Regions from separate parts of the Homo sapiens genome. Here region 2 is linked to region 1. The links come from fine-mapping of genetic effects on gene expression. A gene starts in region 1. The other region holds a variant in brackets. All regions are shown on one strand. Distances are from middle to middle. Region 1 holds the start of PSPN (persephin). Region 2 holds the start of SLC25A23 (solute carrier family 25 member 23).

What was found.
Region 2: its variant is fine-mapped to the expression of PSPN in whole blood (INTERVAL, PIP above 0.99).

The regions. Positions count from the first base shown.
Region 1 is chr19:6,373,331-6,378,722 of GRCh38, reverse strand. PSPN (persephin) reads left to right here and starts at 2,790. Exons shown (of 2, transcript NM_004158.5): 1 at 2,790-3,021; 2 at 3,107-3,575. The coding sequence starts at 2,874. The coding sequence ends at 3,429. It overlaps ALKBH7 (alkB homolog 7), which reads right to left. Exons shown (of 4, transcript NM_032306.4): 2 at 4,347-4,520; 3 at 4,134-4,258; 4 at 3,473-3,912. The coding sequence ends at 3,750. RefSeq lists a silencer at 5,206-5,392 and an enhancer at 5,275-5,392.
Region 2 is chr19:6,455,961-6,461,178 of GRCh38, reverse strand. It overlaps SLC25A23 (solute carrier family 25 member 23), which reads left to right and starts at 1,387. Exons shown (of 10, transcript NM_024103.3): 1 at 1,387-1,706; 2 at 2,855-2,981; 3 at 3,589-3,676; 4 at 4,648-4,759. The coding sequence starts at 1,551. RefSeq lists silencers at 696-875, 1,386-1,525, 1,576-1,635. The variant C/T (reference allele first, on the strand shown) is at 3,088.

The DNA of each region.
Region 1 (5,392 bases):
CTCTGTGGGAATCCGGGGTGGCCTACTTTGCAGGCAGTCCTTCCAGATGGTTCAGCCTTGGCTTTCGCTAGCTACCCAGGAGCGCCAGCCCCAGCCCATTTTGTGTGTGGTTCTCAGCTTGCAGGTGGCCACCAAAGCCAACCCCCCCCACTGCCCCGATTGTGGGTCCCTATGTTTGAGGTTCCCGGTGATGTTTCGGGGGGCTTCTCCCTTCTTACAAGCTCGGTCATGCATATATTTGATCTGGCGTTGCCAGGCATTCTGTAAGGGAGGGCTTTTCCAGTTCCTGGAAATGGAACTGGAAAATGTGGCTGGAAACATTAATATGGCTGGAAATGGAATTTGCCTGCAGCCACTACTTTTGAACCCATCTTCCGGGCAATCCCTTCTGTCTTGCCGGTGGTTGGAAACTTGCAGGTGGAAGTCTTCCCCACCCAGTTCTGCAGCCCTTGGCTGCCGAGCAGGAATGCCTGAGATGTCTGGCTAATTCCTCGGAATGTCCCAGTTCAGGCCAACCTCCCTCCCCCTTCTCCCACCAGGCCTTCTTGGGCAGCAGGGAGGCAGCTCTGGAGGGAGCCGCTGCCTCAGCAGTTTCGCCCCAGCCACCCCCACTGCCTGGGCCTTCATGTAAGGAGGCTGGGTGGTGAGGCCCTGTGGTGAGGAGCAGGGGTTTTGCATTCACGGAGGACCTGGGTTCAAATACCAGGACCGTTGCTTAATTCTGGGTGACTTCAGGCTTTTTTTTTTTTTTTTTTGAGATGGGGTCTCGCTCTGTCGCCCAGGCTGGAGTGCAGTGACATGATCTCCGCTCACTGCAGCCTCCGCCTCCTGGGTTCAAGCAATTCTACCTCAGTCTCCTGAGTAGCTGGGATGACAGGCACGCCCCACCACGGTCCAGCTAATTTGTTTTTTGGGTTTCTGAGACGGAGTTTCATGCTGCTGCCCAGGCTGGAGTGCAGTGGTGCAATCTTGGCTCACTGCAGCCTCTGCCTCCTGGGTTCCAAGCGATTCTCCTGCCTCAGCCTCCCGAGTAGCTGGGACTACACCCAGCTAATTTTTTAATAGAGACGGAGTTTCACCATGTTGACCAGGCTGGTCTTGAACTGACCTCAGGTGATCTGCCCACCTCGGCCTCCCAAAGTGCTGGGATTACAGGCGTGAGCCACTGTGCCTCGCCTAATTTTTGTATTTTCGTTAGAGACAGGGATTCACCATGTTGGCCTGGCTGGTCTCAAACTCCCGACCTCAAGTGATCCTCCCACCTCACCCTCCCAAAGTGCTGGGATTATAGGCATGAGCCACTGGGCCCCGCCAGGCTTTTTTGAGACAGTATCGCTCTGTCGCCCAGGTTTGAGTGCAATGGCACAATCTCAGCTCACTGCAACCTCCACCTCTCAGGTTCAAGCAATTCTCCTGCCTCAGCCTCCCGAGTAGCTGGGATTACAGGCGCCCACCACCATGCCCAGCTAATTTTTGTATTTTTAATAGAGATGGATTTCACCATGTTGGTCAAGCTGGTCTCAAACTCCTGACCTCAGGTAATCCACCCGCCTCAGCCTCCCGAGGCATGAGCCACCACGCCAAGCCCAGGCTTTTCTTTCCATCGGAAAATTATCATCTCAATAAGCACTTCAGTAAGAAAAACCACAACATAATCATCGAAGCAATCCCTCACGGATGGAGTTGAGGCCACTTCCAGACTTTCCTAATATGAAGAAGGCATCAGATGTCCCTGTGCTGGCTGTTTCACTTGCCTGTGTGGGAGGAACCCCGCAAACAGGGCTCCTGGGGCAGAGGGTGTAATTTACAATTCCCCAGTAGCAGCTGCTCATCCAAAGAGCTGCTAGCAATTTACACCCCCACCAACAGCACAGGGTGCACCTGGGTCACACGGGTTGTGTGTGAGGGTTTTCTGATTTTCCCCAATCTTGTGGGTGCTTAGAGTCAAGCACCCCTTCGGACAATCACAAGCTGTTTGCTTGTTTTTGCATTCGAAGCTACGGGCACTGCCTTACACTCTAAGTGCCCATCTCTTTCCTCACCAAGCCGAGTAGGAGGGGTTCTGAGGAGCTCCCCTGTACCGGTGAGGGGACTGGGCTCACACGGGGCTGGGTATGGAAGCCTCGAGAGCCCTTATCTGTCTGCATCGTGCTAGACGTTACCATGACCTGGACAGCCTCCATCGCCCCGGGGGCTCTGACATGCTCAGATCCCAGGATGGGGCTGCAGTTATAGGGGTCTCAGGTTGGCCTTCCCGAGACAGGCGTCCCTGTCCCCTTGTGTCCCCACCCTTGGCTGTCCCCAGGCCTCTCCCTTTTCCTGTTTTGATGCTGGCTCAGCCAGGCCCGGAGACAGGGGCATGATGTCCTAATCCTCCAGGCGGGAGCCACCATGGAGGGTTCCCGTGGACTCAGTCCCCTGCCAAGCCACCTTTCCCAGCACTCACATATGCTCCACCTGGCACATGATACACGTGGGGGCTCCTGAGCCCCAGCACCCTGACTTAGTGGGGAGGGACCCCACCGGGGTCCCATGAAGCCCCCTGACTTCCACTCCAGGCAGCAGGTCGGGGGAACACCAGTTGCCTGCCCTGGCCGCCAGCACAGCACTCGTAAATCAGGGGGTGTCTGGGGCGTCGGAAATGGCTGTGTGGAATGTCGGGGTGGGGTAGGCTGGGGGTGAGCCCTTAACTCTTAGAAGGGTGGGGTGTGGGGCAGAAGGAGCAGATGCCTGGATTCGAGGGTGCAGGAGATGGGCTGGTGCAGACGTGGGGCCTCCTGGCTGCAGGGGCCGGCAGTGAAGAGGTTAGCTCCCAGCCCAGGCAGGGCATAAATTTGGGGCACAGCTCCCACTCTCAGGACCTGCCCGTCACAATGGCCGTAGGGAAGTTCCTGCTGGGCTCCCTGCTGCTCCTGTCCCTGCAGCTGGGACAGGGCTGGGGCCCCGATGCCCGTGGGGTTCCCGTGGCCGATGGAGAGTTCTCGTCTGAACAGGTGGCAAAGGCTGGAGGGACCTGGCTGGGTAAGGACTTCCAGGGACCCTCTGTGACTTCCCAACTTTCCCCAGCCCTGACCCTGCTCACTGTCAGCGCCCTTCCCTCCCACAGGCACCCACCGCCCCCTTGCCCGCCTGCGCCGAGCCCTGTCTGGTCCATGCCAGCTGTGGAGCCTGACCCTGTCCGTGGCAGAGCTAGGCCTGGGCTACGCCTCAGAGGAGAAGGTCATCTTCCGCTACTGCGCCGGCAGCTGCCCCCGTGGTGCCCGCACCCAGCATGGCCTGGCGCTGGCCCGGCTGCAGGGCCAGGGCCGAGCCCACGGCGGGCCCTGCTGCCGGCCCACTCGCTACACCGACGTGGCCTTCCTCGATGACCGCCACCGCTGGCAGCGGCTGCCCCAGCTCTCGGCGGCTGCCTGCGGCTGTGGTGGCTGAGGGTGCCCGGCCTGGCACCCAGAAGCTGCAGTGCTGGGGGAGCTCGGCTGACTTATTTATTGGAGACCTGGATGCAGAGACAACGAGGAGGGGAGTGGGCTGGGGCGACCAGCAGTGAGTGCAATAAAGGACACCACTCTCCCGGCCTTGTGACTTTGACCATGTGTCCAGCCAGCCACACCTGGAGCTCCCTATGGGCCAGTGCCATCCTGGGTTCCCCTGCAAATCCCGGCCCCAGCAAGCAGCCACTGCAATGTCCCAGTTAGGCTGTCCATTCCCCAACTTTATTCACAAATCTGGTGTCTGTAGAAAGCTGGGGGTCAGCAGGCTGGGGGCGGCTGTCCAGACTCCCCTGGCCCCATGCCCTCAGGGAGGGAGCGGCAGATCACGGAGATGCGCCGGCCCCGGGGAATCCGGCGTTCCCCAAAGAAGGACTCTTCATCCCGAAGGATCTCATGGGAGAAGTCATAACGGGCTGAGCCCCTGCAGGAAGAAACAGGCTGTGACTGGGTGCAAGGAGGGCAGCCCCTGCTCCAGGCAGACCTGGATTCCAGCCTCCTGGATTCCAGCCCCCTGCTGCCTCCCACACAGACCCTGGGGTAAAGGCGTCTTCGGGGAGGGCTGGATTGAGGGAAAGTACCCAGGGCACAGGGTGGGCGGATGGCACATTCTTGGAGGGGTGGGTGCTGCCTGGATGGAGGTACCTAAGGATGTAGAGGGAGCCCGGCTCCAGCAAGAGTTCCAGCCACTCCCCCGGCTCCTGGGTGTGCACCAGCCGCATAACGCTGGGAGACAGGAGAGACAGGCCGGCGATGGTGGCCCCGCAGAACTGCAAAAGAGGCGTGGGGATGGGTCAGGATCTAACCGGGCCTGCCTACCCCCTGGCTGGGAGTGCCAAGGCACCGTCCTCTGCCCACCTTGATGCTGTCCACGTGGGGCTTGATGTAGCCGCGGGCTTCCAGGTCCAGCACGTGCACGGAGGAGAGCAGGGTCTGGCCGGGGCCAAAGGCGGCCGCCTGCACGCGCTGCAGGATGGCCCGGCTGGCTTCTGACCAGCGCGACTTCTCTGTCTCTCGGAAGCCGTGGATGGCCTGCACAGAGAGCTCGGTTAAGCCTGGGAGCTCCCAGAGGGAACAAGGAAACTGAGGCAAGGAGGGGCAGAAAACGGCAAGGGGCTGGTTTCCCTATGTGACTCTTGACCCTGCCCTCAACTCAAACTCCCCTAGCCCCTCAACTATGGCCCTACCTAGGTGTGACCTCAGTCCTTAGTACTCACCCTGAGGCTACAATTCCAGGTCCCCAATGCTGGCCCGGCCCCAGCATTCAATTGGCTGAATCTCCCTACAACTTGACCCCACCCAAGTGTCCTGTCTCTGTCTCTCAACATCATCTGGCTCCACATCCGTTTCCGCCCCTAACCTTGGTCCCAGGTCGCAAAAGTGCTCTCCCTGACCCCAAGGTCCTCATCCCCCAGGTCCCGCCCCTCCCACAGCCAGAGTTTCAGCCCAGCCCCCACCATAGCCCAGCTCCCAAATCCCTGCAATAGCTACCGACCCCAAAAAGGCCCTGCCCCATCCCAGCATGTGTCTCCCCTATCTCCGCCCCCAGCGTGGTTCTGCCCTCTCTAAACCTCGACTTCCCCGTCCCCCCCACAGCATGGCCCCAACCCATCCCGGCGCTTGACTCCACGGACCCCGCCCCAAGCTTGGCCCCGCCCCATCCATGCGCTCGACGACCTGACCACGCCCCAATCCCAGCCGCCACGTTCTTCTGCACTGTAACTGCTAGCAGCGTAATCGCACCCCAACCCTACACCCGACTCCCTGGCCCCACCCCCACGCTCGACTGCGCTGTAACCGCCCCCAAGCGTGGCCACGCCCCATCCCAGCACTGGTCCCCACTGTCCCCGCCCCCAGCGTGGCCACGCCCCGTCCCTACGCTCGCCTCCTGTCCCGCCCCCAGA
Region 2 (5,218 bases), 83 kb before region 1:
GGCGGGCGGATCACGAGGTCAGGAGTTCGAGACCAGCCTGGCCAACATGGTGAAACCCCGTCTCCACTAAAAATACAAAAATTAGCTGGGTTTGGTGGCGGGCGCCTGTAATCCCAGCTACTCGGGAGGCTGAGGCAAAAGAATCGTTTGAATCCGGGAGGCGGAGGTTGCAGTGAGCCGAGATCGCGCCATTGCACTCCAGCCTGAGCAACAACAGCGAAACTCCGTTTCAAAAAAAAAAAAAAAAAAAAGATAATTAATTCTTTCTAGGGTATAGAGTGATGGTTAAGGATCCCAGATCTCTTTAAACCCTGTTTTGCCCCTTAGTGGTCATCAGGACTGGGGAGAATGACTTAACCTCCGCTTCCTTATCTGCAAAGTGCGAACGCCAGTACCACCTACCTTATAGGGTTTTGGCAAAGACGACTCGAGAGGTGAGTAAAAGCCCTGGCATGTGCAAAGCACTGAATCAAAGTGAGATTTGTTATCGAGTATTCGCTGTCAAGTGGTCTGGGCTCCCTTCCCCCTAATGGTGGATCGAGAAACTGCGCCCGAAACTAGCAGTAGGGACATTCCGCAGGTGCAGCGAGTGCGACAGGCTGGGGCCCTGCCTCCAGCGCTCGACCACTGGGATCCTCAACCCCGCGCCCGGGTCACTGAGCCACCCCCTCCCCACGCCGCTCAGCGTCTGATTGCGGCCGCGGCCCCTTTAAGATCTCCTGGCAGGCGGTGGGACTGCGGGCTGGAGGCAGTCGGGGGTCTGCGGGGAGGCCCCGCCTAGGTGGGAGAAGAGGCGGGGCGGGCGGGCTCAGCCCAGGAGGCGCTGACCAATAGGAAACCGACTTTGCAGCCGCGCCGCGCGTTGATTTTCTGTTTCCCAGTCAGAGTGGGAACCGAGAAAGGAAGCGCGCGGGCGGGAAGAAGGGACAGTGGGAGAGCATCGCTCCTGGATCTTCTGTTTCTGCGGCCGAGCGGGGAAGGTGTAAGGCGCGGGCGGGCAGAGAGCGAGCGAGATGGTGCACGGTTCTTGCGTGCGTCTGGGAAAAGCGAGAACTTGAGTTCCTGAAGATTAGTGGGTGTGGCGGGGAGGTCAAGTGGAAGGGGATTATGAAACCCAATCCCCGACAGCGCTCTACCTTGCCCCCTTGGGCAAAGGGGGAAAGGGTAAACTGAGGCACGCAGAGGCGGAACTCTGAAACCAGACCTGAGACCACTGAGCTCCCTAGCCCGTCTTCCCAGAAGGAACTCTGGTGTTCCTCGGCTGTGCAATACCAGACCATCCCAGACATTCCCTCCCCACGCCCCCAGCTCCGCCCTCGGTCCCCTCCCCCCAATGCAGGTCGGGGGAGGAGACGCAAGTTCTGGCGCGGGCGGCGACGGCTAGCCGTCACCACCTCCCGCAAGTGCCAGAGCCGAGCGGACTGCGCGGAGGCTGCGGAGCCGGCGGCCGCGGGAGCTGACCCTGCGGGGTCCCGGGGGGGGAGGGGGAGCCGCGAAGCCCCCACTGAGGCCGCCGCTGCCGGGCCTCCCCTCCCCCCCGGGCGGGCGCCATGCGGGGGAGCCCGGGCGACGCGGAGCGGCGGCAGCGCTGGGGTCGCCTGTTCGAGGAGCTGGACAGTAACAAGGATGGCCGCGTGGACGTGCACGAGTTGCGCCAGGGGCTGGCCAGGCTGGGCGGGGGCAACCCAGACCCCGGCGCCCAACAGGTACCCCCACCCCCAGGGACCTCCTCCCCTCCCGGCCCCGCCCGCTCCCGGTTACCCAAGCCCCTGAACTGGGCGGCCGGAGCCACCAGGGACTACCTGTGGCTGGACTCCAGAACCTGTGTCTCTGTCTCGTTCCCCCTACCCACTCGTGTTTGGCCTAACGGGATCGCTCAAGACAGGGACGCCGAGGCCCCAAGCCTGCAGTTCCGCGGCCAACACCCGATCCCCCTGCTGCGGGGCAGGGGGCGTCTGCCTGGGAAGAGATGGGGGCGCTTTCCTGCCCACTGCCCGGGACACACCCTCCTCCAGACTGCACAGCCCATGACGTGCCCTGCTCTCACCTCCAGGAGACACACCCTCCATCCTCTGGGCACCTACTGCCCTGGCCTGCAGCTGCCCCGATCCCTGTGTTTACATTCCCTGGCCTGCCCTTTCATGGGCCGTTCACGGGCCTGGCTCACTGTCCCGGGCTGCCCCAGCCAGGGACCCAATCCTGTCTGCGGTCACCCGCAGCTGGGAATGCACCTATAACAAGACTTTCCTCCCGCTGCCCCCACCTCCACTTTGCAGGTCCTTCCCACACCTGTAGCCCCAGATCGCTCTAAGAGAACCACAGCAACCCTGAGAGCAGTCCAACCTCCCACTTCCCAAATGGGAAAAACCAAGGCCTCAGCCACTCCGCTTGGTTCTCTCCTGCCCCACATCGCCCAGGGCTTCCTCCAAAGGGAACCCCTGGGTCCCCCATGTGGACAGGGTTTTTTAAGAGGCAGCTGGGTTCAACAGGAATGAGATACCTAAAAAAATAACAAAAACTAAAAACAAGAGACAGCTGGAAGGACAGGCTTTACAGATGAGAACTGAGGTTACCATTTCCTGGTTCTGTGACCTTGAACTGGTGACTTGACCTTGCAGAGCCTCAGTTTGCTCACCAGGAAAACTAGACCACTCACACCCACCGCACAGACCTGTGGTGGCTGTAGGGATCTGGCTGAGAAGTTAGCTGACTGAGGGAGAAGTGGGGTGACGTCTTCTATCCCCTTCCTCAAGGCGCTGGGGGCTCTGGGTTCCTAAGGCATAAGGTGACATGCGTCCCCTCCAGATCAGGAGCAGGTTCCTGGAGCCACCTCTATCCCCTTTCCCTCTGTCAGGGTATCTCCTCTGAGGGTGATGCTGACCCAGATGGCGGGCTCGACCTGGAGGAATTTTCCCGCTATCTGCAGGAGCGGGAACAGCGTCTGCTGCTCATGTTTCACAGTCTTGACCGGAACCAGGATGGTAAGGTCGGGCGACCTGCCTGCAGGCCCCAAGGGATAGGGCTGTGGGGGCCCTAGAGACATCAGTGGGGTTAGAACTGGCAGCGCTAGGAGGAGAGGGGGAGGGC[C/T]GCTTCTCCCCGATGACTCATAGGCTATTTCAGGAGCACTCCTCACCCCCTAGCTAGGTGGTTCGAGGCCCAGCCAGCCCATCCCACCTCCTTTCCCTACTGGGGCAGAACCCCGATAATTACCCTTAGATTTTTCTATGGGGCAAAGATACCCTATGCTGTTCCTGGGTCCCCTGTGGGACAGAGATCCCCTCATAGCAGCATCTGGGTTGTGGATATTGCCTCTCAATCCCCCATGGCATAGAGACCCCTACAATTACCCCTGGATTCCTTCATTCATTTACAGAACAGAGAAGCCCCCCCAGTATTTCCCAGTTCCACCTCTCTGACCCCAGTGAGTCAGGGGTCCCCCCACAGCCCTACTGCAAACCTCCTCCTAGGTTTCTGGAGCCCCTGATCTTGCTAGACCACCTCCATTCCAAGCTGTTCTGATCCTTGGTCCTGGGGTTCCCCAGGTGTCCTCACACGCACATCCTTCCCCACCTCCGGCCCCCTCCCCAGGTCACATTGATGTCTCTGAGATCCAACAGAGTTTCCGAGCTCTGGGCATTTCCATCTCGCTGGAGCAGGCTGAGAAAATTTTGCACAGGTGAGTCGCTGGGGGTCTGGAATCCAAAGTAACTCAGGACACAGTGACCCCTTGGCCATCTCTGTCTTCTGGGCTCCAGACCCAGTCCCAAGGAGGATACAGCTGAGAGGTTGGGGCTTTGAAGTCAGACAGATCTGGCCAGGCGCAGTGGCTCACATCTGTAACCCCAGCACTTTGGGAGGCTGAGGCAGGTGGATCACCTGAGGTCAGGAGTTGGGGACCAGCCTGGCCAACATGGTAAAACCCCATCTCTACTAAAAATACAAACATTGGCCAGGCGTGGTGGTGCATGCCTGTAATTCCAGCTACTTGGGGAGGCTGAGGCACGGGAATCCCTTAAACCCAAGAGGTGGAGGTTGCAGTGAGCCAAGATCAGGCCAGGACACTCTAACCAGGGTGACGGAGTGAGACTCCTTCTGGAAAAAAAAAAAAAAAAAGAAAGAAAAATTCAAATTGAAGCCAGACAGATCTGGGACCAGTTGCCTCTCTTAGCCCGTTTCCCCCTCTACAAAATGAGGGTAATACAGCTGGCTATGGTGGCTCACGCCTGCAATCCTGCCACTTTGGAAGGCCGAGGCAGGTGGATCACGAGGTCAAGAGATGGAGACCATCCTGGCCAATATGGTGAAACCCTGTCTCTACTAAAAATACAAAAATTTGCTGGGCATGGTGGTGTGCACCTGTAGTCCCAGCTACATGGGAGGCTGAGGCAGGAGAATCTCTTGAACCCAGGAGGCAGAGGTTGCAGTGAGCTGAGATCGCACCATTGCTCTCTAGCCTGGGCAACAGAGCAAGACTCCGTCTCAAAAAAAAAGAAAAAAGAAAATGATGGTAATATTTGCTACATCTCTAATAGGGTTGATATGAGGACTTGAACCTCCCAAACTGCAAAACCTAGCAGAACTTCACCCCAGCCTAGCCCACCCCCAGGCACTGAACCTGTCCTCCTCCACCCCCTTTCTTCCCCCCAGCATGGACCGAGACGGCACAATGACCATTGACTGGCAAGAATGGCGCGACCACTTCCTGTTGCATTCGCTGGAAAATGTGGAGGACGTGCTGTATTTCTGGAAGCATTCCACGGTGAGGTGGGGGTGGCTTTCCCCAGCTGAAGGCTGTGCCCTCTTCCCCAGGGGGGCCTTGCTCCGATCTCCCCAGGGCTTGGATGGGCTGGACCAGGACTTTCCAGAAGGAGAAGGCACTGGCAGCAGCTGACGGATGAGGGTCTGTTCCTCTCTTCCTCCACTTAGGGTTCAAGGGTCCCATTTGGGACATCTCTGCTGTCTGATTGAAGCGCAGCCCTTGAGACTTACATCGGGGCCTCTGGGGACAGCGTGTGGGGGTTGCGGGTACAGGGAAGAAAGAGCTCACCAGATGGGGTACAAGGCCTCCCACCTTCCACCCACACAGCTCTCTTCTGCTGGGTTCTCTGCCTGGATAAAAGATTCTACGGCTGAACAGAATCGTTCAAAAACCACGGTCTTGGCCAGGCGCAGTGGCTCACACCTAAAATCCCAGCACTTTGGGAGGCCGAAGTGGGCG